Linked DNA regions of Homo sapiens: region 1 is linked to region 2. Evidence: fine-mapped expression QTL. Tissue or cell type: whole blood. Region 2 holds a variant in brackets; the other region holds the start of a gene. All regions are shown on one strand. Distances are from middle to middle.

Evidence for each region. PIP is the estimated chance that this variant, and not a neighbour inherited with it, causes the effect.
Region 1: EFHC1 starts here. The variant in region 2 is fine-mapped to the expression of EFHC1 in whole blood (TOPMed, PIP above 0.99).

What each region holds. Positions count from the first base shown.
Region 1 is chr6:52,411,881-52,428,109 of GRCh38, reverse strand. EFHC1 (EF-hand domain containing 1) reads right to left here and starts at 7,768. Exons shown (of 11, transcript NM_018100.4): 1 at 7,637-7,768; 2 at 3,943-4,164. The coding sequence starts at 7,699. It overlaps LOC124901331 (a long non-coding RNA gene), which reads left to right and starts at 7,129. Exons shown (of 2, transcript XR_007059611.1): 1 at 7,129-7,901; 2 at 9,662-10,210. RefSeq lists an enhancer at 7,208-7,799 and a silencer at 11,225-11,519.
Region 2 is chr6:52,439,329-52,455,557 of GRCh38, reverse strand. It overlaps EFHC1 (EF-hand domain containing 1), which reads right to left. Exons shown (of 11, transcript NM_018100.4): 4 at 2,721-2,870; 5 at 1,271-1,463. Among named protein-coding and RNA genes, the nearest start is that of EFHC1, 27 kb to the right of the region's middle. The variant G/A (reference allele first, on the strand shown) is at 6,437.

The DNA.
Region 1 (16,229 bases), 27 kb after region 2:
ATATTTAAATACTGTGTTTAAAAATATACTTTTCATGGAATTTTATAGCAGGCTGGGCTCCTGATTATCATGTATTCTAACCTTCTGAGTTTATAGACGAGGAAATTAGAGATTGTGACTACAAGGTCACAATGTTAGCTGGTAGGAGACCCAGAATTAGAATCCAGGTCTTCTAACTCCCAGGAAGTGCTCAGAATGCCACAATAAACATAAAAATATTTGTATTTACTTCAAGATGAAGGGGGGAAATGCTGCATAAATATTTTCATATCACACACAATTATAAAAAGCCAAGTCACATTTTTAATTTTACATTATTATAAGCATATATGGTACGTGTTTGACTTGCCAATTTTCAGCAGTGACACAGACAAGAAATAAATTTTGTTAATTATTCATGTCATTTTAGAACTGATATTTATTGAGCACTAAATATATAATAAACTATATAAGTCCTTACCTTCATGAAGTATACACTCAGGTGGGACAGATAAACACTAAACAAATCAGCAACACAAATTATAATATAGTGCTGCAAAGGGGAAAAAAAAAAAAGAGAGGGAAGTGATATAGAAAAATGAGGAGGAACTGCCATAGCAGAGTGGCCAGGAAAAGCCTCACTGAAAGGAAAGATGGAGTCAGCCACTTAAGGATGGTGGGGAAGCTATTTCAGATAGGAGAAATGCCATGTACAAAAAGGCCCTGAATTGGAATTTTCAAATGCTGCCATTTCAAGGAAATCAGTAAAAATAAATCCAATGTATTGAAACATGATAGGTGAGAAAAAGGACCCAAGATGAGGCTGGGGAGAGAGCAGGGAGGGCCAGCTCCAGTAGGGCTGTGAGGAACCTGTAGAGTTGGATCTTTATAGATGATAGGGAAGCCATGGAAGTGTTTCAGTCAGTATGTGACATAATCTGATTTTCAAAAAATAAGCCTGGCTGCTCTGTGGAAAATAAATTTATGGTAATAGTGAGGATGAAAATAAGTAAATGAATTAGTTACATATTTTAGAAGCAGAAACAATAGAACTTGCTAATAGATTAGATGTGGATTGTGAGGGGAAAGAAGAATGAAAGATGACTTTCATGTCACAGTGAGGTGAATGGTGGTAATGTTTACTGTATTGGTTAAGAAAGCCTGATGGCATTTTCCCAGAAAAATGACATAATCAGAGCTGAACTCTAGAGAATAAACAAGGCAGCATACCTGTTATAAGCATAAGGACTAGGAATGAGACTAAAACAACAGTTAGGTAGTCATTTGGCTTGTCTGAACTATGATAGTGGCAGAGGAAATGAAAGTGAGAGATATTTGACTTGGCAACTCATTAAGTGTGGAGGATAAAGGAGAGAAAAAGCCAAAGATGGCTCAGGTTTCAAGCTTGGATTACCTAGTGGAACCACACAGGGAAAGCAGATCTATGGGAAAAGGTGAGGGATAGAGATAAGTTAGAGACATACAGAACTTGAGGTACCAACAGTTCATCCAGGTGAAGATATCCCATGGGCCAGGGGGATACAGATCTGGAGTCTCAATGATGTCAGAGTTGGAACTAAATAGTGACATTCTCTACGGTGAGGTGACGGTTGAAATCACGAAAGTGGGTGAGATCTCAAGAAAATTATATAAAGAATGAGATAGAGCCTTGAAAATACTTGTAAGTTAAGAATTGAAAAGAGGAAGGGAGGCTAAAGAATAAGCAACCACATAGAAAGAAGGAGGAAAATGAGAGTCATGGAGGCAAAAGAAGAGCACAGTTTCAAGAAGGGAGGAAGGGTCAACAGTGTCAGATGGCATAAACAAGCCAAAGACAATGCTGGCAAAGTAAACCTCTCTAGATCTGGTAAAAGGACAGCACTGGCTACCTAGGAGAAAGTATTCTGGGGCTGTGGGTAGGGAGAAGTCAGATTGTAAGTGATTTGACAGTCAAGTGAGAAACAAAGTTATCTTGCTTAAAGGCATCACAAGGTATTATAGAAAGAGGACAGGATGATATGACTCTAGCTAGAGAAGCAGTCACTAGAGTGTCTGAAATAGAAATAATATGAAACTTGAAGATGAAAAAGATGAAAGAAGAACATCAGAAATAAAGAGCTGGAAGTCAGTCTGGGAAACACAATATAGTAGGTGATGCTGGAATTATACAGGAGCAAGGGGAAAAGATGAGGGCACTTGGAATAGATGTCCTGGTCTTTATTACCTAAGTAAGAAATGAAGTTATATTCTGTCTATGAGGAACAGTCCTAAGAATTTCCAAAATATAGACAAATATGTTGGCTATTATGTGGACCTCTGGGTATTAGAGGTCCTTCATTTAAAATTAGAACCTTCATTTAATTCAGAGAAACCATAATTCCCTTATTATAAACAAACAAACTTAGTTTCAAAGTCATGCATTTAGCTTCTCTCTACCCCATTATCTATGCTAAGGCTCATTTATCTAGAAATTGTGATGATCCAAGTAAAATGAATTGGAAAATAAAAATAATATTTTTATGTGCACTATCCTTAAAGAAATGAATTATGAATATTAAATAAGTACAAATTAAGTAACAACAATTAGTGTAAAATAACATAGAAAACAAAAAATAGGAAGCCTATTTCCTACTCAAGCGCAATTTCTCCTCTGAATTTTACTAATACTTTCTTACGACATATATCACTTTATCACCTTCTACTTTATAACAGTTACTTACTATTCTTTTCAGTAAAAATTAAACATACCAGGATTCATATCTTGGTAATTATTTAGTGCCTATCCCACTTCTCTCTTGTATTTTCAGCCCTCTCCCTTCTCTGCTGATTTTGCAATGTCTGTCAAAGCCACAAATAAACAAAAGAAACAAGCAAAAGGAAAAGATACATCCAATTATATAAATCATACTGTTTAGTGGATGTTTAGGTTCGGCCTATGAATGCATATGTGAATGTGTCCCTATAAATGAGTTAAGTGGGGAAGAGGAAATGATACAGATTCTAGTTGAGAGACTGAAATTGTTTAAAAATAAGTGACTATCATGTAAATGGCATAGCTCCTCCCCAGCCTCTAGCTTACAACAGGTACTCAATAAAAGTTGGCTGGCTGGATGAAAATGTTATAGACATTTAACAGGAATAATAAAATAAAAATTAAGACAAGAAAAGAAACAGACTAAGAGTAAATTAAGAAAGCTAACTTATCAAAACTGATCAGTACTTCTCAGAACCAGTTACACATAAAGCTCATCTGGAAATTAGAACTGATGAGGGTTGGAATAACGTAACTTTCTTAAAAATCTCGCCAGTGATTCTGCTACATGGTCAGGGCTAGGGCTACTTCACTTTAGTGAAAAGAGGAGGCTCATTGACAAGGAAAAACAAGAATGATGTGGTAATGTCAATAGATGGAAATGAGGAAACTCACATTGCAAAAACATAAAGATAAATGAGAAACAAACAAAAATGTTATACCACCCATTGGTTATGTAATATCAAACATGAAATGTTCCCTGAAAACCAAAAACTTATGGAGACTGCCTTGCAGAAAACTGACAATAGATGGAGTCATTGTTTTCATAATGATATTCTGCATCTCATGAAGATTAGATATGTCACCATTACAGAATACAGTTACCTTTAAAAAGTGGAGAACACACGGCTGATAAACATAGAATATAAATTCAAGAATTCAGAATTATAGCCAACTTTTCTTTAACTGCATTTGGAAAATAGTCTGGTGAAGTCTACAGGGAACTACTTTACTCCCTGTAATCAGCTTCCTGACTAAAGAAAGCCTCTTTTTAGCCTGAGTTCAGCTGTCCATGACTAAGGGTTAAGGCATCTGAACAATTTTCTCCTCAGAGCCCTTTGGAAATTCTGTGGTTTACTGTTTTAACTTTTTTGCAAGCAGTTGGCTCTCAGACCCTAATTCAAGGGGTACCCTAAAATTCCAGATGATACCTTTTTGTCAAAGGCCACATGCGCAGGAATAAAATCCGCAGGTGGGGCTTGTTTAGGTTGGCCATAAGTTAAGACTGGTGCCTTACTGGCCAACTCATCCAGCTCAGCCTGGGACAGCTGGTTGAACTGGAGCCGGTCTCCGCCTATCCCAACTGTTGGACGTCGAACAATTGCATAGCCGTTCCTGTAGCTCAGCGTCTGACTTCTGTGGAAGGCTGTTTTCTGAAGAAGAAAAGAATGTGTCATTAATAACATTAGACAAATATTTGTTAGGTAAAAAAAAAACTAACTTTTAAAAATATAACTTGAATCTTTGCTTATAAGCATCACAAAACTTACATCAAGAAGCTTACCAACATTAAGGCTGGGCATGGTGGCTCGTGCCTATAATCCCAGAACTCTGGGAGGCTGAAGAGGGAGAATCACTTCAGCCCCAGAGTTCGAGACCAGCCTGGGCAACAAGATGCTGTCTCTACAAAAACTAAAAAAAAAAAAAAAAAAAAAAAAAAATTAGCTGGGTGTGGTGGCTTGTGCCTATTATAGTCGGCTGAGGTGGAAGGATCACTTGAGCCTGGGAGGTCCAAGCTGCAATAAGCTATGATTGAACCACTGCACTCCAGCCTGGGCAACAGTGAGACTCTGTCTCAAAAAAACAAAACAAAACAAAAGCTTACCTACATTAAAAGATTCTGTATTTTAAGTTAAAACACTTGAACAAGAACAAGGAGCGAAGTAGCCACCTAAGCTTAAAGTAAAATTTAAAGCTGTGCTCTGTAATGCCCAATTTAACTACCAATTCACCTTGCATGAGAGATTAAAAGAGTATCTCATCTATACTCTTAAGTTTTTCACTAGTCTTCTCATGTTTTTCATCTGATATCTGGGGCCGTAAAAACTGTAGAACCTAGAAGATACGGTTCTGTGAATTTTATTTTTACATGGAATGAATTTATTTTTACCTGTCCCTCTTGTCACAATGACAGTGATACATTCTTACAACTCTTTGGAAAGCAACTGGATGGTATATATTTAAAGTCTTGAACTCAATAATTCTACCCCGACCATTTATTTACGAATATGATTCAGAATTATGAGAAAGAACTATATGCCTGAAGCTGCCCATTACAATGGTAAATGTTGAAGACAATCTAAAAGACAGTCATATGAAGACATGAGTAAATGATCGAAAACTCACTCAATGGATTATGGTGCTGTCATTAAAATATTGATTTTAGAGATCACGTGGCAACCTGGTGAAAATATTTATGATTTAATAAGCCTGAAAAAGCAACATATAAAATTATATGTGTACTGCAATTATAAGCATGGAAATATGTGCATGAAGAGACTGGTTTGGTCCTCTGTATTATACATTTCTAAATTATGTTGATTTTTTACAATGAACACATTTTTATTTAAAAGATTAAATAAAAAAGAGTAGAAAGGCAAATTAGAGGTTATGTTAATGGTTTCCTTTTTCTGTTGTGAGGATACTTTCACAATTACTTATCTATAATATTCAAATATATACATAGATACAATTTAAGATTAATCATAAAAAATATTTTTATGAAAAAAACTTTCTACATCCTAATTGCTTTAGAGCCCAGCCTACCATCTTTCAAGATCTGTACTAACATGAAAGGTACAACAGAATAAACTTCTTTTGCTAAAAGGGTTATAAACTGTATATAACCCATAAAAACAAATGTATGACATTTGTTTTTAAAGGTCATGTATTCAGAGTCACAAGTCAGTTGACAGGGACTGCTCCAGGTATATAGTAAACATGACATAGAACAAAATGCGCTGAGTTGACATCCTCATTGGGTAATTTATGGAACTTCAAGCTCTTCTTCCACCACCAAAGACAGAAGCAACATCAGTGACTTCAGTTTATTTCTTTGTTTTAGACAAATGTCTCTACCATCATTCAGCCATAACTCACAGACACCCCAGGCAAGGCAACCTCGGCCCTTTCCACCCCTCTTGTCCATTATGGTTCACCTTCTGTGTGTCTTTTTTTAAAATCGTTTTCCCACTCCCCTTTAAAAATTTTTTAACTTCTTATCTGCATGTCTTTAGAATTACATTAATACATATTCAGTCCTTCACTGCTGAAGATATACTGACGATGCTTTTCAAATTTCAAATAGGGCAAATTGGTTGACACTTGGCCAGTGTATTTAAAATCTGAAATATGTCCAATGCACAGTTCTTCTTACTTGTAATACAGCAATATGTTTTTAGAGCTTTGCACTTCCATCCACACCTCTGTAATTCCCTGTATCAACTCAGCCCTGTCTATACTCACCAACACCAAAAGCTTAAGCTCATCCTGTATAGGGCAGGCAAGTGCCTACAACATTTTCTAAATTACATAAAACTGAAAAGTCCACTGAAACTAAAAATCTATGATGTTGTGTCTTAATGCAGGGATAATTACAGAGATTCAGAATACAAATTCTCTCACCAAACTTTCGATTTCATTCTAAATTGATTCTTCCAAAGAAAATAAATTGACAAAATATTTTAACTTTGTGAAGCTGGAGAGGAAGGCAAGAGTTTAAAGTATTAAACTATATAAACATAAACTACTGTTAGCTCATCTATGATGATCAGTCTACTGAATCTCATTATTGATTTTTCAGCACATACATTTCAGTAGCCCTGTCAGAATTAAAACAAACCAAATAATTTTAAGAGCTAAACTGTGGCAAGAGTTTAAAAAAAAAAAAGAATCCAAGCTGCTGCTACTTTTTAAAAAATTTTGTCTAGAAAATGCAAATAAAAACACAAGGTTGGGGAAGGAGCAAAACAAAATCTAAACAGGAATCTTTTTACAAAAACGTTAGAATAAAAAGAACAGGGCCGGGGAAGAATAAACAGCAACTAATCAATTCTTGAGGGAACTGGAAAGGAATATCTCTTACAAAGCAGGGAAAGATGCTTTGGGAGGAAGGTGAGCAAGTTTTGGGGAAAACCCGCAACGGAGAAAGAAAGGAATGGGGAGAGGATGGGACTAAATTGTGGAAAATGTAGAAGATGGAGAAAAAAGAATGGGGTTGGATGCAAGCATAAAGAAGAAAGGAAAAAGACCTGGCGGAAAGAAGAGGAGCGGAATCGATATACATACAAAACAGGAAATGGAGCTGGGAGTGGGAGATACTACCGGGTACAGGATTCAGAAGAGGAAGAGGTGGGGCGGGAATGACGGACCTGTGGGAATGAGGTTGAAGGTGCATAGTGGCGGGGGGTTTTAAGGGCGGCGATGGACGGAGACAGGTTATGATGTGAGAGAACGAGCTAGGGAGAGGGCCCAGAGATAGGTTGGGAGTAGGGTGGGGGAAACAGTGATCTAAAGGGACAAGAGGCAGGGGCTTGGAGGAGCAGGGCCGTAAGAAAGAACGCGGCTAACGGGATGAGAATGAAGGCGCCAACACACTGCCAAGATGGAGTGGGAAAAAACTAGAGAGGGATGAGGCGGAGGGCAAAGGATCGGAGAGAGGGGATGAGGATGGCTAGGGAAGAACGGCAGAAGTTCGGCCCAGAATAAAGAACAGGGTCAGGACAGAAGACGTGTTTGGAGAGAAGACAGACTTGAGTGGAGGGGAATGGAGGTGCACTGAGCGGGGAAACCTCCTGGGCTGCTGGAAGGTGGGGACAGGTGGGAGTCTGGCAGATAACTGCTCACCGTAGAGTCCTTAAAGGACGTGCCCGGAAGAAAGGGCAAGCCATGCACGGGATTGGACACCATTGCAGCCGGTACCACCGCCGCCACCTAGGTCCTGCTTCGTCCTCTCCGGTTGCCCAGGCGACAAGCAGTGTTCGCGGGCACCTCCAGGATCCATGGTAACGCTAAACATCCGGAACTCCCACGAGCGGAAGGCGGGGCCAGGAGGCGCAGGCATCACAGGAGGTTTGCGCGTGCGCCATCCGCAGGACTCCGCGTTCTCGCGGTAAGTGGGCCGCGGCCTTGGAGCGCGGCTAGTGGGCGTGGTTGTGTCGGCCCCTCCTCTTCCGCTTCGCCCCGCCCCGCTCCCGGAGGATGAGACGTGGGAGCTGTTGGGTGGCGCGGGGAAAGGCGGGTGTAGCGAGGCGGTAGTTCTCGCTGTGAGATCCGGGGTCCGAGCAGGCCCTTAGATGAGTTGCAGAGAGGGACGTTCCTTCTCTCCTTCCACCTAGTCCTGGCGGACCTCACTGCGCCCCGCCAACGCTGTGAGCTCAGGCACTCTTTTCTCCCCCCTCTGCCCCATTTCACACAGAAGTGTAAATGGTCGGTCCAGTTGGCAGTGCTACTAAACTAGACCCATGCTTCTTGTAGGCAGGGGCCGAGGATTACCCATGATTGTGTTTCTGTTGCTCAGGGATGGTCAATGAACTAATGCAATCATCTCATCCTTAATTCTCCCACTGCCACATTGTATTTTTCCCCTTTTAACTCTTTTTTAAAATCAATCTTTCTCTTTCTTTCTTTCCTTTCTTTCTTTCCTTTCTTTTCTTTTTCCTTCCTTCCTTCCCTCCTTCCCTCCGTCCCTCCTTCCCTCCTTGCTTCCTTCCTTCCTTCCCTACTTCCCTCCTTCCGTAGAGATAGTGTCCCACTATGTTGCCCAAGCTGGTCTCGAATTCCTGGGGTCAAGCGATCCGCCCACCTCGCCTCCCAAAGTGCTGGGATTACAGGCATGAGCCACCGCGCCCAGCTCTCTTTATTCTACCATCAATCCCTTCGGTTAAACACCTTTGTTTTTGTAGGGAAAGCCTTGAATATGTGCTGCAGGGCAGGGTGCACTCTGATAGGTACTTGATTTTTGTTGACTGAAGAGCTGCAGGTTGAAGGGTGGTCACCTCAATCCCTCGTTTGTACCTGCAGCTGCAATGAAAAAGATCAGAACCACTAGGAGGAACACAGCTCCTTCAAAGAGAAAGACTAAGTCTTGGGAAAGAAGCAGATAAGTGAGGTGAAATATTGTCAGCATCATAGGTATAGCCTTTGATGCTTTTTACAAAACTTGCTTAAATTATTTTTTCTTAAAAGAAACATAATCCTATTCCTGAAACATTTTTTTTGGGGGGGGGGGGAGAAAGCTATCCATCATTGCTGAGGAGCTTAAAAATAAAAAGTAATCAAAACCCACGTGCCGAGAGATTTGGATTCATTAGGTCTGACATGGAGGCCAGGAATCTGATTTTTGTAACAGGCGTTTGTGACAAGCCAGTTTAGGAACATGATAGAGTAATAAGCCAGACACAGAAGGCATATCTCAGTGTCACAGGTAGTTTACTGCCAATACAGACAGCAGCTTTACTTTTATTGCTGCTTGTCAGAGCAAATCCCCCTGTTGGGTTTCACTAATTTGTGTGACGCTCAGGAGGCCCAGGACATGAATGCATTAAGTGGCACCTGAGGCAGTTATTGATGCCTGCTTACCATACCCTGCCCAGAGAGTTTCCTTTCTAACTCTTCTCCCCTTACTACATCTGTTTCCTGTTCTTGTCCTTTTTTAAACCTCTTTTTCTTTTTCTGTAAGTACATTACCTTAATGCAGCAGTTTAATACATTTTTTAAAAACTTCAATGAAGTTTTTTTGCCTTTGGTGCTTTTTACAAAACTTGCTTATTTTTTAAAAAAATAAATGTAATCATATTCCTCAAACATTGGTTAGCATTGTGGAAGTTACTGAAAACTTTTAAAGTACCTGTCCGTTGTATTATACCTTAGACACCAACTGAGGATGGATGCCAGTCACTGGAGGAATATGTCAAGATGGCAAGTTTGCTGGGTGCGGTGGCTCACGCCTGTAATCCCAGCACTTTGGGAGGCCGAGGCGGGTGGATCGCCTGAGGTCAGAGTTTGAGACCAGCCTGGACAACATAGTGAAACCCCACCTCTACTAAAAATACAAAATTAGCTGGGCATGGGGGCGCATGCCTGTAATCCCAGCTACTTGGGAGGCTGAGGCACGAGAATCGCTTGAACCCGGGAGGTAGAGGTTGCAGTGAGCCGAGATCGCGCCATTGCACTCCAGCCTGGGCAACAAGAGCAAAACTCCGTCTCAAAAAAAGGAAAAAAAAAAAAAAAGATGGCAAGTTTAACCTTTCAAAGATAAGGCACCTCTCCCACTTCTCTCCACCTCATTGACGCTGATTACCCAGAATCACTGGTTACTGTAATTTTTGCTGACTCTTCATGATAACCTTAAACTGTTAGAAGTTCCATGATCCCTCCCTACCCACTCTCTTATTAAAAGTAAATTTCATGGCATTAGGACACACTTTGAAGAGCTCTTCTTGACTAAGTGCATGGTTGCACTTGGATCTATATTCCTGGGTTGGGTAGGGAAGGAGCGTGTGGAGCTGGAAAGGCTGAGTCATGCCTAAGCCTATTGTCCATTATCGCATCTGTTTCTATTTGAGGAGTGCCCTCTGCTCATGCCTTTCTTTCCAGAAAAGCACGCCAGTTAAATGGCTAAGGGGTGTGTTTTAACTACTTTCGGACCCCAGAAATGCATGAAGACAACTTCTGTTGGTCTATGGCCTCCTAAAAATGCTATCATCTCTGAGGAGGGGAAGTCAGACGTACTGCATTAGTGTTAAAAGGCACAGGGACAAGTCTGTAAAGAAGTGGGGCGGGAGGAAAGGCAGGGCTTCAGAAAGGTACCTGGATCCTCAGAAGGTCTGCTGTGATTAAGAGTTTGTATCCCAGTCGGGTGCAGTGGCTCATGCCCGTAACCCCAGCACTTTGGGAGGCCAAGGTGGGCAAATCACTTGAGGCCAAGATTTTGAGACCAGCCTGGCGAAACCCCATCTCTACTAAAAATACAAAAATTAGCTGGACGTGGTGGCACATGCCTGTAGTCCCAGCTACTCAGGAGGCTGAGGCAGGAGAATCGCTTGAACCGGGGAGGCAGAGGTTGCAGTGAACAGAGATCATGCCACTGCACTCCAGTCTACATGACCACTTAGCATGCATTGCACTTCAGTTTGTACCCACCATTTCCCACTTAGTGGAATATATAAAAGAGGGCAGGAAACTGACCATTCCTGGCAGCTAAAGTAGGAAATGCCATGATTGAAAGGCCATTGCATAAAGCCTGACTCAGAAGACCACAGAAATATTGCATGATTTTAGCAGGTGTTCCAAAACTTGGGGAATGGAAAAAAATTGAAAGGTCAGACTGCCAGGAGCCAAGCCTGAAAGAGGGCCTTGTGGGCTGGGTAATGTCTTCCAGGCAATCCTGATGGGACAGGCCATAAGCAGTCAGCTAAAATAAACCTCTCCTCTTTCAGCATTTTGCCCAGAGCTGACTTTACCCAGAATTTGTTTTCAAAACTGTGACATTCTCATTCTATAATACCTAAATTCACAGGACAAAAAATACCAAAGGGCTGTGTGTGCATGTGTCCTGGATTACTTCTGCAGTGATTTGGTGTTCTGCTTCCCTCTGCTGGGTAAAAATGGTACAGCAAAATTTCTGGAAAAGAAAACAACCAATTACATACCTGCAGGTTTTGCAGGTACTTGGGGGTGTGGTGAGCACGTGAATATGGCCAGGGGGTGTCCCTCAGTCAGAGTGCTCTCTAGCATTCCTTTCCATCACTCCATGGCCTCTGAAATATTTTATCTAAAAAGAGGGCCCAGTCATCCACTTCGATCTTTGCAAAGTATGGGAAAAGGAGAAACATCCAGTGATTAGATTTAGGATCCACAGGAGATCTTCATTTGACACAAAAATTACATCATTTGGGTCTAGACTATTTTAGTCTTGATGTGGGCTCCTGCCTGGGGTTTGGAAAAACCTGTATTTCTGCTGCTTTTTCCTCCCTTAAGTCAAACCTATTCAATAGCTTTAGCTGATTCCGTTGGAATTCTCTTTCCTTGTCAAAGCTGATGGAACATACTTCACAGGATATAAGCGTCATAAGAAGATGGTCTTCATTTTTTCATTGCCATTTTCCTAACTCTCATCACAGTGCCTAGCACTACATAGATGTCCATTAAATAGTTGGAAAATTACTGACCTACTACAGTTAATGAATGAATGACTCAGCGGTCACGTGGGAAAGTATTTTTCAAACTGCTGCAGATTTCCTTTAGCAGTTCTTCAAATCAACTTAATAGGTTGTGACCACAACGAGAATTATTTTTAAAAAAGAATAGAATAGAAACTATCCAGATGCATTCCATTTTGTTTGTAAGAATAATTCAGTGAAAGTTTTTTCAAGATATATACATACATATACATTCATAGTGAGAGTATATCATGATCACAGTCAAAATGCTTGAAAAGTAATTGACACAGTCCGGTTAGCTCATTTTACTAATGAGAAATCTCCAGACCAAAAGAGATCAAGGAACTATCAATTAATGACTGGTTCCCAATTGAGTATTTCTTACACTCCACCTCAATCCTCTGACATCTAGGAAAGACAGTCCTCATTTAGCTCAGGACAGATCATTGATCTTGGCATCCTGCTTGTGAGACATCTCTGGCATAATAAAGCTCTCAATAGTACGGAGAAAGAGAAGTGTGAGAATGTTGTGGTAGTAACATTGACTAGAGTTTTAGATTCCAAATGTGGACAAGAAGTGAATTCATTAATTCAGGTAAATGGCAACTTTGAAACAATAGGGAAATTGACACCTTCTATTGAGCATCTCAAACCACTTTCCTTTTCCCCTTTCACATATGCAGCATGAAACAGAAAGTAGAACAGGTTAGGTCCTGAGAGCCACATTCCTGTCCTGTTAAGAATATTTGTGTGAGTTTGGACAATTTACCTATCCAAGTCTCCTGCTTTTCATCTCTAAAATGAAAAGCCAGGACCAGAGCTAATGACCATTAATTGTTTGAGGGTCATGGGATCATTTTTAAAATCTTGTAAAAGCTTTAGACTTTGGTTCCCTAAAATGCACACATTCACATGTACTTATAATTTCATGTAGTTCATGAAAGCTCCAGTGAGTCTAGAAATCACTTCATTGAGTTTTCCCCTCTTTAAAATCTATGGAATGAAAAGTCTACAATATAGTACCCCAAAGGCAGAATGATGTAGCGGTAAAGTGAGTGGACTGTAGGAAACTCTCCAGGACAAATGATTGTTTGGCCAACAACTGAATTGGAAAGGAGTAAAAAGACTGGGGTAGAAGGGAAACCTATAAATTAGAAAGAGATTTAAGTAAAAAGTCAACCAATTGCAATGTGTGGGTCCTATTGGGATCCTGATTTAAACTAAATACTTTGAAATAATTATCACATTTGTGAGACCATTGGGAATTCAAACACAGGATATTTGATGGTAAGGAATTGTTCTTCAGTTTTTTAGACATGATAATGATATTGTATTCTTGTGTAAAGAGTCTTCATCTTTTAAGGATACATAAAAAGCATGTATTGTAGGAAAAATTATATAACATCTATAAAATTATAGATATTATATAATATCTTATATAATATATGAGATAGTATATATTATATAATTATATAATGTCCAAAATAATATGGACAGAAGCAAGTGAGTAGGGATGTAGATGAAACTAGATTCCCCATGATTTGATAATTGTGTATGTGATTACATGGGAATTCATCATACAATTCTATCTACTTTTGTATATGCTCAAGGTTTTTCGTAATAAAAAAATAAAAATAAAATATTATGGACTGCAGAGTCAGACTGCAGAGTTGCAAATCCTACCACTTACCAGCTCTGTGACCCTGCAGAAGTTTCTTAACCTTTTAATAGCCATAAACAGGAATAATAATTGTTATTCCCAATTCACAAGGTTGTTGTGAGCATTAAATGAGTTCATATATGTTAGCACTTACTGTAGTGCCTGGCACATAGTAAGCGCTCACTGACTGTTTGCTATTACCATTGTCTGGGGGAGCATGGTGAATGGACAGTTTGGTCAGTGACTGGGAATTGGAAAAACTATGGAAAATTAAAGACAGATTAAGGTAAAAAGAAAGGAGAAAAGGGGGGTAGGGAAATATGTTGGGCACTTTAGAGAATGCAACATGTAGAAGGGTTTGGTTTGTGTGAGTTAAGTCTTTCTTTCCTTTTTACCCACCCCCCACCTACCAACTCTGAATAAATATCACACACACACACACACACACACATACACATACACACACACACACACACACACACACACCCAGATCCTTTTAGACACACACACACACACACCCAGATCCTTTTAGAGGGTAGGAGGGCATCTAATCTCTTTTCAACGTAGAGTTTATGAAAAGAGCACAACAGCTTTCTGGTGGGCCACAGAGGAGGCTAGATGGCTGGAGCTTTCCGTGGAGCCATGGTCTTTTCCCTATTTGTTTGGTTTACTATTTTTTTTATCACCACTAGAATGCGAGGCAGACGGTGAATATAAAACCTTTGCACCCAAAGATGAAGGTGCTTGCAGGTAGATGAGTTGGTTGTGAGTACCAAGAGTAGAGGCAAAGACCCAGGTGGGAAGTTGCCAAGGTGCAACCCAGGAGCACCTGCTTACACAGGGTAGACTCAGATGGGAAACACAGCCACACTGAAACTGGCTGTTCACAACATTTTCTCTGTACTTAACTCCCTACCACAGAGGTTCTATTGTATTCACACACATGATAAGCTTCCCATCTGTATCTCTGCTGAGATCTGCAAATCCCATTTCTCCCTTTAATAGGGTATAGATGGGGGGGAAGGGAGGGGTCTTCGTGTCCCATTCTCTACCTGTGCTTGCTGAGTTGAGAGACCAAGAGCCACTGGTTAGAAAAAACTGTCAATTTCATAGGGAGGTTAAAACTGAGGTTGGCCCTGCGATGCTGTATTAAGTTTTCTAGGGTCATCGTAACAAAGTACCACAAGCTGGGTGGCTTAAAAAGAATTTTTTTTCTGTCACAGTTCTGAAGGCTAGAAGTCTGAAATCAGGGTGCTGGCAAGGCCATTCTCTCTCTCTGCCTGCCCCGCCACCCTAACCCACACACCCCATCCCCCAGTTTCTGCTTATTACCAGAAATCCTTGGCACTCTTTAGCTTGCAGATACATAACTCCCATCTCTGCCTACATTGTCACATGATGCTGTCCCCTGTGTGTGTCTATGTGTCTTCACATGGCTGTCTTTCCTCTGTGTCTTCTCCTCTTCTTATATGGACACCAGTCATATTGAATTAAGAGATTGTCCAGTATGACCTCATCTTAACTGCTTACATGTACAACTACCCTGTCTCCAAATAAGGTCACTAATTGAGGCAGCGGGGTTTAGGACTTCAATATATCTAAGGGACACAAACACATAATAGATGGGAATCAAAAGGTAGAAAAAATGAGTATGTGGACCAGTAGGGTTTCTTCTGTAGTCTGAGAACACTTGGGGACCATAGTGAGAAAGGGCGGTGCTGCCAGAATGTCTGGGTGGTGTGTGTGTGTACCAATGGAAGGTTCTTCCTGATGCCTGAGAGAGTCTTTGATCATGCAGACTGAATGTCAGGGAAGGAATGTGGAGGAAAGCAAGAAATCCCCCATTTCCCAGGGAAGATGAACTACATCTTATTCCGTTGTGGGTGGAGAAAAATCCCTCCCAAGGACAGAGAGCTCCTGTTCTGGTGAGAGACGTCTGGGAGCCCTTGGAGAGTGTGGATGAATTTGTGCAGAACTCACAACACCCTGCTCAGCGTGAAGTGATAGAAATAATGACTGTGGGCCAGGTGCGGTGGCTCACACCTGTAATCTCGGCACTTTGAGAGGCTGAGGCGGGCGAATCACCTGAGGGTGGGAGTTCGAGACCAGCCTGACCAACATGGAGAAACCTGGTCTCTACTAAAAATACAAAATTAGCGGGGCGTGGTGGCACATGCCTGTAATCCCAGCTACTAGGGAGGCTGAGGCAGAATCGCCTGAACCTGGGAGCTAAAGGTTGTGGTGAGCTGAGATTGCGCCACTGGACTCCACCCTGGGCAACAAGAGCAAAACTCCATCTCAAAAAAAAAAAATAGAAAAAGAAATAATGACTGTGTGATTACCACTAGCACTTTCCGAACACAAACTTTGTGCCGGGTACTGTGTGCAAAGGTATTTTTCCTGGAGCAAAATTAGTCAGATTCCAAGATAATTTGTTCTTGTTTAGAAAAGAGAAAACACTAGATGGAGATATTTTGCATGTTGCCATTGCTGTCTTTAAGAAATTTGTTTAGCCTGGAATCATGCTCAAATTTATTTTAATGAGGAATAAGATATATTAAAAGGTCCTAAAGATGAGAAAGTATTCACTAGAGTCATTTTATAAACATTAGAGAAG
Region 2 (16,229 bases):
CTCAGCCTCCTGAGTAGCTGGGACTACAGGTGCACGCCACCACGCCCAGCTAATTTTTTGTATTTTTAGTAGAGATGGGGTTTCACCATGTTAGCTAGAATGGTCTCGATCTCCTGACTTCATGATCCACCTGCCTTGGCCTCCCAAAGTGCTGGGATTACAGGTGTGAGCCACCGTGCCCAGCCCCAATACCTGAAATTTCTTATATCCTAATTCCCAAAAAATATAGTAAAAAGAAAAAAAAATCAGTGAACACATTTACAGAATCCTGTCAGCCACCCAAACATAAGAGCTATCAGTCATTACATGTGACCAAGATGACATTATTCTAAGAGAAATGTAAAAACTACTAAGACAATAACTAAAGCAAGCCTACTCATCCCAGGAAACAGTGAACAGCAGGTATTTGCTGCCATTTTGTTGCACTGCCACTCTCAAATATGGTAGGTAACTTTTTTTCTTTTTCTGGAGATAGGATCTCACTGTTGCCCAGGCTGGAGTGCAGCACCACAATCACAGCTCACCGCAGCCTCGACCTCCCAGGCTCAGATGATCCTCCCACCTCAGCCTCCCAAGTAGCTGGGAATACAGGTGTGCGGCACCAAGCATGGCTAATTTTTGTATTTTTTGTAGAGAGGAGGTTTCATCACGTTGCCCAGGCTGGTCTCAAACTCTTGGGCTCAAGCAATCCACCCGCCTCAGTCTCCCAAAGTGCTGGGATTACAGGAGTGAGCCATCATGCCCAGCCCATGCTAGGTAATTTTAAACCAGTAAAGAATGAGCTGGGTTTGACACAATGGACCTCACCTCTATGAGTCACAGACATGCCTTTTCCAATCTCAAGTTAAACCACATAGAAACTTCCTGTTTAGGAAGTAGTTGAAGTGAGAAGCAAAGTCAGGAAAGCATATAAAGAAAAGCTAAGCTTTCATTCATATCCTTGAATGAAAACAAGCCTGTTTGAAAAATGCATTAAAAATCTAATATTAAATTGTTTCAGTTCAGAAACCTTGCTCTGCTGCACTTTAAATAAATCTCCCACTGTTGTTTTGGTTTTGTTTCCTTGACCTGGGTACCAGACTGTCTTGGGGGCACGCCTGGACCGAGGGGCAAGTAAAGGAGGAAAGCTGTGGGAAGCCATTTTCTGAGCATCTAAGCAAAAATAGCTAGAGGCTTCCAAGTATAAACGAATTTTGCATACTGATTAAGTAACTCCTTTAAGAACCTAAAAACATCCCAAGTAACAGAGAATAAACTGAATCAAACATACTTGCATTTTCCACCAAAACTTTGGGCACACGCTGGCGGTTCATTAGGAGTGGGAAAGGATCTCTCCCATCATTCCGTTCGTGGACCTCTCGAATTTCCACCGTATCATCCATAAGATAGTAATGAATGATGTAGGTCCGACATTCACCATACATGCTGTCTGTATCATCCCAGATTGCATAGAATCGAAGGACCTTTGAAGAATCCAAAGTAGTGACTCAAGAATCCTAAAAGTAGGGAGTTCAACTTGGCTACTTTGGCAATTATGTATCAACGATGGAAAGACTAGCTGGAAAGACTATGAAGTAATTTCAGATGGGGTAAATTGAAAAAAAAAGAAATATTCATCAAACATACTAAAACATCTGAAATTATGTACTATATGTCAGCAGCTGGAAAGAATTAAATAATAGGATTATAAGTTTGTGCCAAAAAAGAAGAGCTCACTTTGATCCAAAATATTAGTCAGTGAAAGAGAAGCTAAATTAAAAGAGCAATGAAGTTCTTTACATAGTGGTATATATATATTAATAAAGGTACATGTGAATATGGTTTATATATAATTAGTGTAGAAAAAATTTTTATTTATTAACCAGTCTTTTTTTGGTCCCATCAACACATATCTTCTAGCAATAATATAAACACAATCTTTTTTTTTTTTTTTTTGGCTAGGCTTCTTCAAATCGTGGGAATAAACACAATCTTTAAATACAAAATAATAACAGATATATGACTGATATGAACAAAATCCTTAAAAGACCATGCTAGTGCTAGTTTACATTTTCTGAACTAAAAGGGGTTAAATGTCTAAAGAAAAGGAGCAGCAAAGAAGCACTGAGGGTGATCTCTTCCTTTTCTTTCTCCCTTTAGTACAGAAAGGGAAGGATTTAAATCTGCTTATACACATCAGCTCACAAGGGAGAGGATTAGGAAGGTTGGAACAGAGTTGGAAAATGCTCAGAACATTCTGGACTCCAATATTAATATAACATTTAACAAGGAAGCATCTGTAGTGGGGCTTCTGTGAAATTAAACATTTTAACATTACAACCTACATGTATGCATATTTGTGAAATTTCCTAATAATCGATTTATGGTTTCACAAAGGAGTCTATGAAATTAGCTCATTTTAAGGGAAAGAAATTGTCAATTGGAAACGTAAGGTGGGAAGCAGATGTAGCTCAGGAATTGCTTTGAGATTTAAATGTTTGGTGAGGTTCACAAAACAACTCCGCAACTCCACGATCTTCTTTGGATCTCCATATGAAATGTAGGCATTCCTGTACCTGTAACCCTTGATGAAAGCAGAAAGACAGTACTGTGTCCAAACAGTTCAATTATAGCTGTAATGTTTCAAAATAGTTACCAATACAGCTACCCAAACCTTTTGCCAATAAATGTAGGTCACATTTGGAAATAAGTAAGCCTATTGTGGTTCCTATGTCACTTACCTGTTTGTCAAAGGTGAGAAATTGCTTGAGTTGATCAAAGTCTGATGGGGTGACATACTTACGAAGAGGCTGTTTTCGGAGTTCAGTGTAAGGATCAAGAGCCATCTTCTCTGGTGGATTTAACTCAATTCCTTGGCTTTCTAAAAATACCTAAATAATTGAAAGTTAACAATGATCATCTTTCTTGGAGCTTTTCAGAGTAAGTTATAAACTGATTATATAAAAATAAGTGTATGGGCCAGGCACTGTGGCTCAGGCCTACAATCTCAGCACTTTGGGAGGCTGAGGTAGGAGGACTCCTGAAACGCAGGAGTTCACAATCAGCCTGAGCAACATAGTGAGACCCTGTTTCTACAAAAACATTTAAAAGTTAGACTGGTTTGATGGCATTTGCCTGCAGTCCAGGCTACTCAGGAGGCTGAAGTGAGTAGACTGCTTGAGCTCAGGAGGTCAAGGCTGCAGTGAGCCATGATCATGACACTGCACTCCAGCCTGCGTCACAGCAAGACCCCGCCTCAAATAAAGAAAAAAAGAAAGAAAAAGTGTAATAATGATTTCTATGCCATTGCTTAAGTTAAACATTAGTTTGCTGCTTGAGCGCATGTAAGCTGTATTAAGTCTCCAACTGAGCCAACTCCATAATGCAGGTAATAATTGAGAGTTACCTGAAGTATTTTATATTGTTATATTGCTAGGTATTTGCTAAGCTAGTTGGGAGGCACAATGGCAAAATAACTGTTTTCAAATAATTTAAATCAATCAAATTTAGTTAGGTGCCTGTAACAGAGTAAGTCTTAGGATTGCTTACTTTCATATATCTGGAACCTAACCATGGTTTCAAACAATATGTAATTCCTATTAGGTCTGGAGGCAAGATGCACAATGGCCAAGTTAGGCTGAAATCATATTCCCAATTTTCTAATTCACTTAAAACAAATACTGTATATGATTAAGTCCCTTCCCCTCACCAAAAAAGAAAAAAAAGAAAGCATACCCACTGGTTATATTAGACCAGAAAACGTGTTAGCAAAATAGGAAAGACAAACCAAGTGCTCAAATTTCACCAGACATTCCTGAAAGGGACAGTGAGAAAGCAAACAACTTGGAAAACATATTTCAGGATATTGTCCACAAAAACCTCCTCAACCTCGCTAGAGAGGCCAACAATCAAATTAAGGAAATACAAAGAATCCCTGCAAGATTCTATGCAAGGAGATCATCCCCAAGCCACATAATCATCAGATTTTCCAAGGTCAAAATGAAAGAAAGAATGTTAAAAGCAGCTACAGAGAAAGGGCAGGTCACGTACAAAGGGAACCCCATCAGGCTAACACTGGACTTCTCAGCTGAAACCCTATAAGCCAGAAGAGATTGGGGGCCTATATTCAACATTCTTAAAGAAGAAAAATCTTCAACCAAGAATTTCATATCTAGCCAAACTAAGCTTCTTAGCAAAGGAGAAATAAGATCCTTTTCTGATAAGCAAATGCTGACAGAGTTCATTACCACCAGACCTGCCTTACAAGAGATCTTAAAAGGAGCACTAAATATGGAAAGAAAAGGCCATTACCAGCCAATACAAAACACACAAGTACACAGACCAGTGACACTATAAAGCAACCACACAAACAAACCAGCATAATAACCAGCTAACAACACAATGACAGGATCAAATCTACACATATCAACACTAATCTTAATTATAAATGGGCTAAAGGCCCCATTTAAAAGGCACAGAGGCCAGGCATGGTGGCTCATGCCTGTAATCCCAGTACTTTGGGAGGCAGAGGTGGGTGGATCACTTGAGGTCAGGAGTTTAGGACCAGCCTGGCCAACATGGTGAAACCCAGTCTCTGCTAAAAAATACAAAAATTAGCCAGGCATGGTGGTACACACCTGTAATCCCAGCTACTCGGGAGGCTGAGGCAGGAGAATCACTTGAGCCTGGGAGGCAGAGTTTGCAGTGAGCTGAGAGCACGCCACTGCACGCCAACCTGGGTGACAAAGTGAGATTCTGTCTCAAAAACAAACAAACAAAACAAACAAACAAACAAAAAAACCACAATGCAGAATAACAAGCTAGATAAAAAAGGAAGACCCAATGGTATGCTGTCTTCAAGAGACCTATCTCACACGCAATGACACCCAAAGGTTCAAAATAAAGGGATAGAAGAAAATCTACCAAGCAGATGGAAAATAGAAAAAAGCAGGGGTTGCAGTCCTAATTTCAGACAAAACAGACTTTAAACCACCAAAGATCAAAAAAGACAAAGAAGGGCACTGTATAATGGTAAAGGATCCAACTCAACAAAAAAAACTAACTATGCTAAATACATATGCACCCAATACAGGAACACCCAGATTCATAAAGCAAGTTCTTAGATATCTACAATGAGACTTGGACTCCCATACAACAGCAGTGGGAGACTTTAAAACTTCCCTGACAGTATTAAACAGATCATTGAGGCAGAAAATTAACAAAGATATTCAGGACCTAACTCAACATTGGACCAAATGGATGTGACCTACCTCTACAGAACCTTCCACCCAAAAACAACAGAGTATACGTTATTCTCATCACCACATGGCACATATTCTAAAATCGACCACATAATCAAACAGAAAACAATTCTCAGGAAATGCAAAAGAACCAAAATCATAGCAAACACACTCCCAGATGACAGCATAATAAAAATAGAAGTCAAAACTAAAAAAACCACTCAAAACCATGCAATTACATGGACATTAAACAACCTGCTCCTGAATGACTTTTGGGTAAATAATGAAATTAAGGCAGAAATCAAGAATTTCTTTGAAAGTAATGGAACAAAGATATGACATACCAGAATCTCTGGGACACAGCTAAGGCAGTATTAAGACGGAAATTTATAGCACTAAATGCCGATGTCAAAAAGTTACATCTCAAATTAACAACCTAATATCACAACTGAAAGAACTACAGAAGCAAGAGCAAATCAACCTCAAAGCTAGCAGAAGACAAGGAATAACCAAAATCAGAGCTGAACTGAAGGAAATCAAGACACAAAAAACCATTCAAAAGATCAATGAATCCAGGAGTTGGTTTTTATTAAAAAGATAGGCCACTAGCTAGACTAATGTAGAAGAGAGAAGATCTAAATAAACACAATTAGAAACAACAAAGGGGATGTTACCACTGACCCCACAGAATTATAAGCAACCATCAGAGAATATTATGAACACTTGTATGCACAACACTAGAAAACCTAGAAGAGATGGATAAATTCCTGGACACATACACTCACCCAAGACTGAACTAGGAAGAAACTGATTCCCTGAACAGACTGATAACAAGCTCTGAAAATGAATCAGTAATCAATAGCCTATGAACCAAAAAAGGCCCAGGGCCAGAGGGATTCACAGCTGAATTCTATCAGATATACAAAGAAGAGCTGGTACTATTTTTTTTTTTTTTTTTGAGATGGAGTCTTGCTCTGTCGCCCAGACTGGAGTGCAGTGGCACAATCTCGGCTCATTGCAAGCTCTGTCTCCTGGGTTCACGCCATTCTCCTGCCTCAGCCCCGAGTAGCTGGGACTACAGGCGCCTGCCACCACGCCTGGCTAATTTTTTGTATTTTTAGTAGAGATGGGGTTTCACTGTGTTAGCCAGGATGGTCTCGATCTCCCGACCTCATGATCCACCCGCCTCAGCCTCCCAAAGTGCTGGGATTACAGGC[G/A]TGAGCCACCGCACCCAGCCAAGAGCTGGTACTGTTCCTACAGAAAATATTCCAAAAAGTTGAGGAGGAGGGATTCCTCCCTAACTCATTCTATGAGGCCAGCATCATTCTGATACCAAAACCTGGCAGAGACACAACAGAAAAAGAAAACTTCAGGCCAATATATTTGATGAACATCAATGCAAATATCCTCAACAAAATATCTGCAAACTGAATCCAGAAGCACATCAAAAAGGTAATCCACCACAATCAAGTAGGCTTCATTTCCAGCATGCAAAGTTGGTTCAACATACACAAATCAATAAATGTGATTCATCACATAAACAAAACTAGAGACAGAAACCACATAATTATCTCAATAGCTATATAAAAGACTTTGGGTAAAATTCAATATCCCTTAATGAGAAAAACTCTCAATAAACTAGGTAGGAGAGGTTCCAGGATGGCCGAACAGGAACAGCTCCAGTCTGAAGCTCCCAGCATGAGCAACGCAGAAGACGGGTGATTTCTGCATTACCAACTGAGGTACTGGGTTCATCTCACTGGGGTTTGTCAGACAGTGGGTGCAGCCCACGGAGCAGGGCAGGGCATTGCCTCATCTGGGAAGCACAAGGGGTCGGGGAATTCCCTTTCCTAGCAAAGGGAAGCTGTGACAGACAGTATCTGGAAAAACAGGACACTCCCACCCTAATACTGCACTTTTCCAATGGCCTTAGCAAATGGCACACCAGGAGATTATATCCCGCACCTGGCTCAGAGGGTCCCACACCCACAGAGCCTCTCTCACTGCTAGCACAGCAGCGTGAGATTGAACTGCAAGGCGGCAGCGAGGCTGGTGGAGGGGCATCCGCCATTGCTGAGGCTTGAGCAGCTAAACAAAGCAGCTGGGAAGCTCGAACTGGGTGGAGCCCATGGCACCTCAAGGAGGCCTGCCTGCCTCTGTAGACTCCACCTCTGAGGGCAGGGCATAGCTGAACAAAAGGCAGCAGAAACTTCTGCAGACTTAAACGTCCCTGTCTGACAGCTTTGAAGAGAGTAGTGGTTCTCCCAGCACGAAGTTTGAGATCTGAGAACGGACAGACTGCCTCCTCAAGTGGGTCCCTGACCCCCAAGTAGCCTAACTGGGAGACACCTCCCAGTAGGGGCCAACTGACACCTCATACAGCCAGGTGCCCCTCTGAGACGAAGCTTCCAGAGGAAGGATCAGGCAGCAACATCTGCTGTTCAGCAATATTCACTGTTCTGCAGCCTCCACTGGTGATACCCAGGCAAACAGGGTCTGAAGTGGACCTCCAGCAGACTCCAACAGACCTGCAGCTGAGGGTCCTGACTGTTAGAAGGAAAACTAACAAACAGAAAGGACATCCACACCAAAAACCTATCTGTACGTCACCATCATCAAAGACCAAAGGTAGATAAAACCACAAACATGGGGAGAAACCAGAGCAGAAAAGCTAAAAATTCTAAAAATCAGAGTGCCTCTTCTCCTCCAAAGGAACGCAGCTCCTCGCCAGCAATGGAACAAAGCTGGATGCAGAATGACTTTGATGAATTGAGAGAAAAAGGCTTCAGACAATCAGTAATAACAAACTTCTCCGAGCTAAAGGAGGATGTTCGAACCCATCGCAAAGAAGCTAAAAACCTTGAAAAAAAGATTAGACGAATGGCTAACTAGAATAAACAGTGTAGAAAAGTCCTTACATGACCTGATGGAGCTGAAAACCATGGCATGAGAACTATGTGATGCATGCATAAGCTTCAGTAGCCGATTAGATCAAGTGGAAGAAAGGGTATCAGTGATTGAAGATCAAATGAATGAAATGAAGTGAGAAGAGAAGTTTAGAGAAAAAAGAGTAAAAAGAAATGAACAAAGCCTCCAAGAAATATGGAACTATGTGAAAAGACCAAATCTACGTCTGACTGGTGTACCTGAAAGTGATGGGGAGAATGTAACCAAGTTGGAAAACATTCTGCAGGATATTATCCAAGAGAACTTCCCCAAACTAGTGAGGCAGGCTAACATTCAAATTCAGGAAATACAGAGAATGCCACAAAGATACTCCTTGAGAAGAGCAACTCCAAGGCACATAATTGTCAGATTCACCAAAGTTGAAATGAAGGAAAAAAATGTTAAGGGCAGCCAGAGAGAAAGTTCGGGTTACCCACAAAGTGAAGCCATTCAGACCAACAGCGGATCTCTCGGCAGAAACTCTACAAGCCAGAAGAGAGTGGGGGCCAATAATCAACATTCTTAAAGAAAAGAATTTTCAATCCAGAATTTCATATCCAGCCAAACTAAGCTTCATAAGTGAAGGAGAAATAAAATCCTTTATAGACAAACAAATGCTGACAGATTTTGTCACCACCAGGCCTGCCCTAAAAGAACTCCTGAAGGAAGCACTAAACATGGAAAGGAACAACCGGTACCAGCCACTGCAAAAACATGCCAAATTGTAAAAACCATCAATGCTAGGAAGAAACTGCATCAACTAATGAGCAAAATAACCATCTAACATCATAATGACAGGATCAAATTCACACTTAACAATATTAACCTTAAATGTAAATGAACTAAATGCTCCAATTAAAAGACACAGACTGGCAAATTGGATAAAGACTCAAGACCCATCAGTGTGCTGTATTCAGGAGACCCATCTGACGTGCAGAGACACACACAGGCTCAAAATAAAGGGATGGCAGAAGATCTACCAAGCAAATGGAAAACAAAAAAAAGCAGGGGTTGCAATCCTAGTCTCTGATAAAACAGACTTTAAACCAAGAAAGATCAAAAGAGACAAAGAATGTCGTTACATAATGGTAAAGGGATCAATTCAACAAGAAGAACTAACTATCCTAAATATATATGCACCCAATACAGGAGCACCCAGATTCATAAAGCAAGTCCTTAGTGACATACAAAGAGACTTAGACTCCCATACAATAATAATGGGAGACTTTAACACCCCACTGTCAACATTAGACAGATCAACAAGACAGAAAGTTAATAAGGATAACCAGGAATTTAACTCAGCTCTGCCCCAAGCAGACCTAATAGACATCTACAGAACTCTCCACCCCAAATCAACAGAATATACATTCTTCTCAGCACCACATCGCACTTATTCCAAAATTGACCACATAGTTGGAAGTAAAGCACTCCTCAGCAAATGTAAAAGAACAGAAATTATATAAAACTGTCTCTCAGACCACAGTGCAATCAAACTAGAACTCAGGATTAAGAAACTCACTCAAAACCACTCAACTACATGGAAATTGAACAACCTGCTCCTGAATGACTACTGGGTACATGACAAAATGAAGGCAGAAATAAAGATGTTCTTTGAAACCAATGAGAACAAAGACACAACATACCAGAATCTCTGGGACACATTTAAAGCAGTGTGTAGAAGGAAATTTATAGCACTAAATGCCCACAAGAGAAAGCAGGTAAGATCTAAAATTGACACCCTAACATCACAATTAAAAGAACCAGAGAAGCAAGAGCAAACACATTCAAAAGCTAGCAGAAGGCAAGAAATAACTAAGAACAGAGCAGAACTGAAGGAGATAGAGACACAAAAAACCCTTCAAAAAATCAATGAATCCCAATGAGATCACATGGACACAGGAAGGGGAACATCACACTCTGGGGACTGCTGCGGGGTAGGGGGAGGGGGGAGGGACAGCATTGGGAGATATACCTAATGCTAGACGACAAGTTAGTGGGTGCAGCACACTAGCATGGCACATGTATACGTATGTAACTAACCTGCACAATGTGCACATGTACCCTAAAACTTAAAGTATAATAATAAAAAAATAAATAAATTAATTAATTAAAAAACCAAAAAAAAAAATCAATGAATCCAGGAGCTGGTTTTTTGAAAAGATCAACAAAACTGATAGACCGCTAGCAAGACTAATAAAGAAGAAAAGAGAGAAGAATCAAATAGATGCAATAAAAAATGATAAAGGGGATATCACCATCGATCCCACAGAAATACAACCTACCATCAGAAAATACTATAAACACCTCTACACCAAAAAAAAAAAAAACTGGAAAATCTAGAGGAAATGGATAAATTCCTGGACACACACACCCTCCCAACACTAAACTGGGAAGAAGTTGAATCCCTGAATAGACCAATAACAGGTTCTGAAATTGAGGCAATAATTAATAGCCTACCAACCAAAAACAGTCCAGGACCAGACAGATTCACACCCGAATTCTACCAGAGGTACAAAGAGGAGCTAGTACCATTCTTTCTGAAACTATTCCAATCAATAGAAAAAGAGGGAATCCTCCCTAATTCATTTTATGAGGCCAACATCATCCTGATACCAAAACCTGGCAGAGACACAACAAAAAAAGAGAATTTTAGACCAATATCCCTGATAAACATCGATGCAAAAATCCTCCATAAAATACTGGCAAACCGAATCCAGCAGCACATCAAAAAGCCTATCCACCACGATCAAGTTGGCTTCCTCCCTTGGATGCAAGGCTGGTTCAACATACACGAATCAATAAATGGAATCCATCATATAAACGGAACCAAAGACAAAAACCACGTGATTATCTCAATAGATGCAGAAAAGGCCTTTGACAAAATTCAACAGTCCTTCATGCTAAAACCTCTCAATAAACTAGGTATTGATGGGACATATCTCAAAATAATAAGAGCTATTTATGACAAACCCACAGCCAATATCATACTGAATGGGCAAAAACTGGAAGCATTCCCTTTGAAAACTGGCACAAGACAGGGATGCCCTCTCTCACCACTCCTATTCAACAGAGTGTTGGAAGTTCTGGCCAGGGCAATCAGGCAAGAGAAAGAAATAAAGGGTATTCAATTAGGAAAAGAGGAAGTCAAATTGTTCCTGTTTGCAGATGACATGATTGTATATTTAGAAAACCCTATCCTCTCAGCCCAAAATCTCCTTAAGCTGATAAGCAACTTCAGCAAAGTCTCAGGATACAAAATCAATGTGCGAAAATCACAAGCATTCTTATACACCAATAACAGACAAACAGAGAGCCAAATCATGAGTGAACTCCCATTCACAATTGCTTCAAAGAGAATAAAATGCCTAGGAATCCAACTTACAAGGGACATGAAGGACCTCTTCAAGGAGAACTACAAACCACTGCTCAATGAAATAAAAGAGGACACAAACAAATGGAAGAACATTCCATACTCATGGGTAGGAAGAATCAATATTGTGAAAATGGCCATACTGCACAAGGTAATTTATAGACTCAATGCCATCCCCATCAAGCTACCAATGACTTTCTTCACAGAATTGGAAAAAATTACTTTAAAGTTCATATGGAACCAAAAAAGAGTCTGCATTGCCAAGACAATCCTAAGCCAAAAGAACAAAGCTGGAGGCATCACGCTACCTGACTTCAAACTATAGTACAAGGCTACAGTAACCAAAACAACATGGTACTGGTACCAAAACAGAGATATAGACCAATGGAACAGAACAGAGCCCTCGGAAATAATACCACACATCTACAACCATCTGATCTTTGACAAACCTGAGAAAAACAAGCAATGGGGAAAGGATTCCCTATTTAATAAATGGTGCTGGGAAAACTGGCTAGCCATATGTAGAAAGCTGAAACTGGATCCCTTCCTTACACCTTATACAAAAATTAATTCAAGATGGATTAAAGACTTAAATGTTAGACCTAAAACCATAAACACCCTAGAAGAAAACCTAGGTAATACCATTCAGGACATAGGCATGGGCAAGGACTTCATGACTAAAACACCAAAAGCAATGGCAACAAAAGCCAAAATTGACCAATGGGATGTAATTAAACTAAAGAGCTTCTGCACAGCAAAATAAACTACCATCTGAGTGAACAGGCAACCTACAGAATGGGAGAAAATTTTTACAATCTACCCATCTGACAAAGGGCTAATATCCAGAATCTACAAAGAACTTAAACAAATTTACAAGAAAAAATAAAACAACCCCATCAAAAAGTGGGCGAAGGATATGAACAGACACTTCTCAAAAGAAGACATTTATGCAGCCAACAGATACGTGAAAAAATGCTCATCATCACTGGCCATCAGAGAAATGCAAATCAAAACCACACATCTCATGCCAGTTAGCATGGAGATCATTAAAAAGTCAGGAAACAACAGGTGCTGGAGAGGATGTGGAGAAATAGGAATGCTTTTACACTGTTGGTGGGAATGTAAACTAATTCAACCATTGTGGAAGACAGTGTGGTGATTCCTCAAGGATCCAGAACAAGAAATACCATATGACCCAGCCATCCCATTACTGGGCATATACCCAAAGGATTATAAATCATGCTGCTATAAAGTCACATGCACACATATGTTTATTGCGGCACTATTCACAATAGCAAAGACTTGGAACCAACCCAAATGTCCAACAATGATAGACTGGATTAAGAAAATGTGGCACATATACACCATGGAATACTATGCAGCCATAAAAAATGATGAGCTCATGTCCTTTGTAGGGACATGGATGAAGCTGGAAACCATCATTCTGAGCAAACTATCGCAAGGACAGAAAACCAAACACTGCATATTCTCACTCATAGGTGGGAATTGAACAATGAGAACACTTGGACACAGGGTGGGGAACATCACATACTGGGGCCTGTCATAGGGTGGGGGGTGTGGGGAGGGATACCACTAGGAGATATACCTAATTGAATGACAAATTAATGGGTACAGCACACCAACATGGCACATGTATACATATGCAACAAACCTGCACGTTGTGCGCATGTACCCCATAACTTAAAGTATAATAATAAAATAAATAAATAAATAAACTAGGTATTAAAGGAACACACCTCAAAATAATCAGAGCCATCTATGAAAAACCCACAGCCAACATTATATTGAACAGGGAAAAGCTGGAAGCATTCCTCTTGAAAACTGACACAAGAAAAGGATGCCCTCTTCCACAACTTCTATCCAAGACAATATTGGAAGTCTTGGCCAGAACAATCAGTCAAGAGAAAGAAATGAAGGACATCCAAGTAGGAAGAGAGAAAGTCAAACTATCCCTGTTTGGAGAAAACATGATTCTATATCTAGAAAACTCCAGAGCCTCATCCCAAAAACTCCTTAAGTTAATAAACAACTTCGGCAAAATTTTAGGACACAAAATCAACATACAAAAATCACTAGCACTCCTATACACCAACAACAGCCAAGCTGAGAGTAAAATCAGGAACACAATCCCATTTACAACTGTCACAAAAAGAATAAGATACCTAGGAATACAGCTAACCAGGGAGATGAAAGATCTCTACAATGAGAATTACAAAACACTGCTTAAGGAAATCAGAGATAACACAAGCAAATGAAAAAACATTACATGCTCATGGATACGAAAAATCAATATCTTTACAGTCACCATACTGCCCAAAGCAATGTACAGATTCAATGCTATTCCTATCAAATTGCCAGTGACACTCTTCACAGAACTAGAAAAAAATACTTTAAAATTCAATGGTACCCAAAAAGAGCCTGAATAGTCAAGGCAATTCTAAGCAAAAGAACAAAGCTGGAGGCATCATGTTACCTGCCTTCAAACTATACTACAGGGCTACAGTAACCAAAACAGTACAGTACTGGTACAAAAACAGACACATAGACCAATGGAATAGAATAGGGAGCTCAGAAATAAGGCTACACACCTATAATTATGTGATCTTCAACAAAGTTGACAAAAATAAGCAATGGGGAAAGGTGCTGGGATAACCTGCTAGCCATATGCTAGCCATATATCTTACACCAGATATAAAAATCAACTCAAGATAGATAAAAGACTTAAATGTAAAACCCAAAACTATAAACACCCTGGAAGACAACCAAGGCAACACTATTCTAAACATAGGAATGGGCAAAGATTTCATGACAAAGACACCAAAAGCAATCACAACAAAAGCAAAAATTGACAAATGGTATCTAATTAAACGTAAGAGCTTCCGCAGAGCAAAAGAAAGCATCAACAGAGTAAAAAGACTATCTAAAGAATGGGAAAGAAATATTTGCAAACTATGCATCTGACAAAGGTCCAATATGCACCATCTATAAGAAACTTTAATTTACAAGAAAAAAAGCAAAGAACCCCATTAAAAAGTGGGCAAAGGACATGAACAGACACTTCTCAAAAGAAGACATACACATGGCCAATAACCATATGAAAAAAAAGCTCAACATCACTATCATTAGAGAAATGCAAATCAAAACCACAATGAAATATCATCTCACACCAGTCAGAATGGCTATTATTAAAAAGTAAAAAAATAACAGGTGCTGTCAAGGTTGTGGAGAAAAAGAAATGTTTATACACTGGTGATGAGAGTATAAATTAGTTCAACCATTGTAGAAAGCAGTGTAGTGATTCCTAAAAGACCTGAAAACAGAACTACCATTTGACCTAGGAATCTCATTATTGGGTATATACCCAAAGGAATATAAATCATTCTGCCATAAAGACATACCCGCAAGTATGTTCATCGCAGCACTATTCATAATAGCAAAGACATGGAATCAACCTGAATGCCCATCAATGGTAAACTGGAAAAAGAAAATGTGATACATATACACATACATATACATATACATGAAGGTGCCAGATTTTTTGCATTTTTGTGTTTTTTGTTGGTGATTTTGCTGTTTAAAGGGTCCCAGTGCCTAGTGATGAAGTGCTATTTAGTGTTCCTAAGCACAAGAAGGCTGTAACACACCTCATGGAGAAAATGCATGTCTTAGATAAGCTTTGTTCAGACGTGAGTTATAGTGCTGTTGGGTGTGAGTTTAATGTTAATGAATCAACCGTATATATTAAATAAGGTGTCTTTAAACAGAAACATACATGAATCAAACTTATGTATTGATCAGTTGACAAAAATGTGGCCAGAGATTAGTGGGAACCTAACCCTGTATTTCCTCTAAGACTAGTGGTTCAGTATTCACTAATTCAGTGTTTGTGGTGACTTTATAGTCCTAATTACTGTCAATAATGAGAACCGACTATAAATAGATTAGGTCAAACGCTCAGTGATTAACTTGCAAATGTTCAAATTGCCCATAAAAACACAACTGTAAAAATAATTGTTATGAAAACACAACTGTAAAAATAATTGTTAATACATTTATGTTTAGATAACATTTTATCATTTCTCACTGTTGGTACAATTGTGAAACTGCCTATGATATATAAGACCTCAGACACCTAAAAAGCAAAGAGATAAAAATATGTTGGAACGGGAGAATATCTCAAAGATGGTCTAGCACCTCTACTTTTGAAGCTATTTTTCTCTATTGCTTTGGAATGGCACTGATGCCATGGCTCCTTTCTTTACTTCCTTCAGGCCTCTATTCATATGTCATCTTATCACTGAGGCATTCTCTGATCCGCCTCTATAAAGAGCCCCTCAACTTCCATTCCCTTTACTCAGCTTTATTTTCCTCCATTGCTGTTATCATCATCTGACATATAACCAATCTATTTATTTGCTATTGCTTATCTCCTCCAACAAGATTGGAACCTCTATAGGGGCAAGTACCTATAACATGCAAGGAAAGGAGAAATGGTGCACTATTAGCTTGTCATAGTCATCTGAAAAATATCAAGTACCTTCCTGAAAACATCTGGCACCTAGAACAGTGCATGGAACAAAGCAGGCATGCAAATAAATATCTGTTAAACAAACTACTAAATGAAAACAATAATGGATTCATAGGAGCTCAGTGCATGGTAAAAATTAGTCACA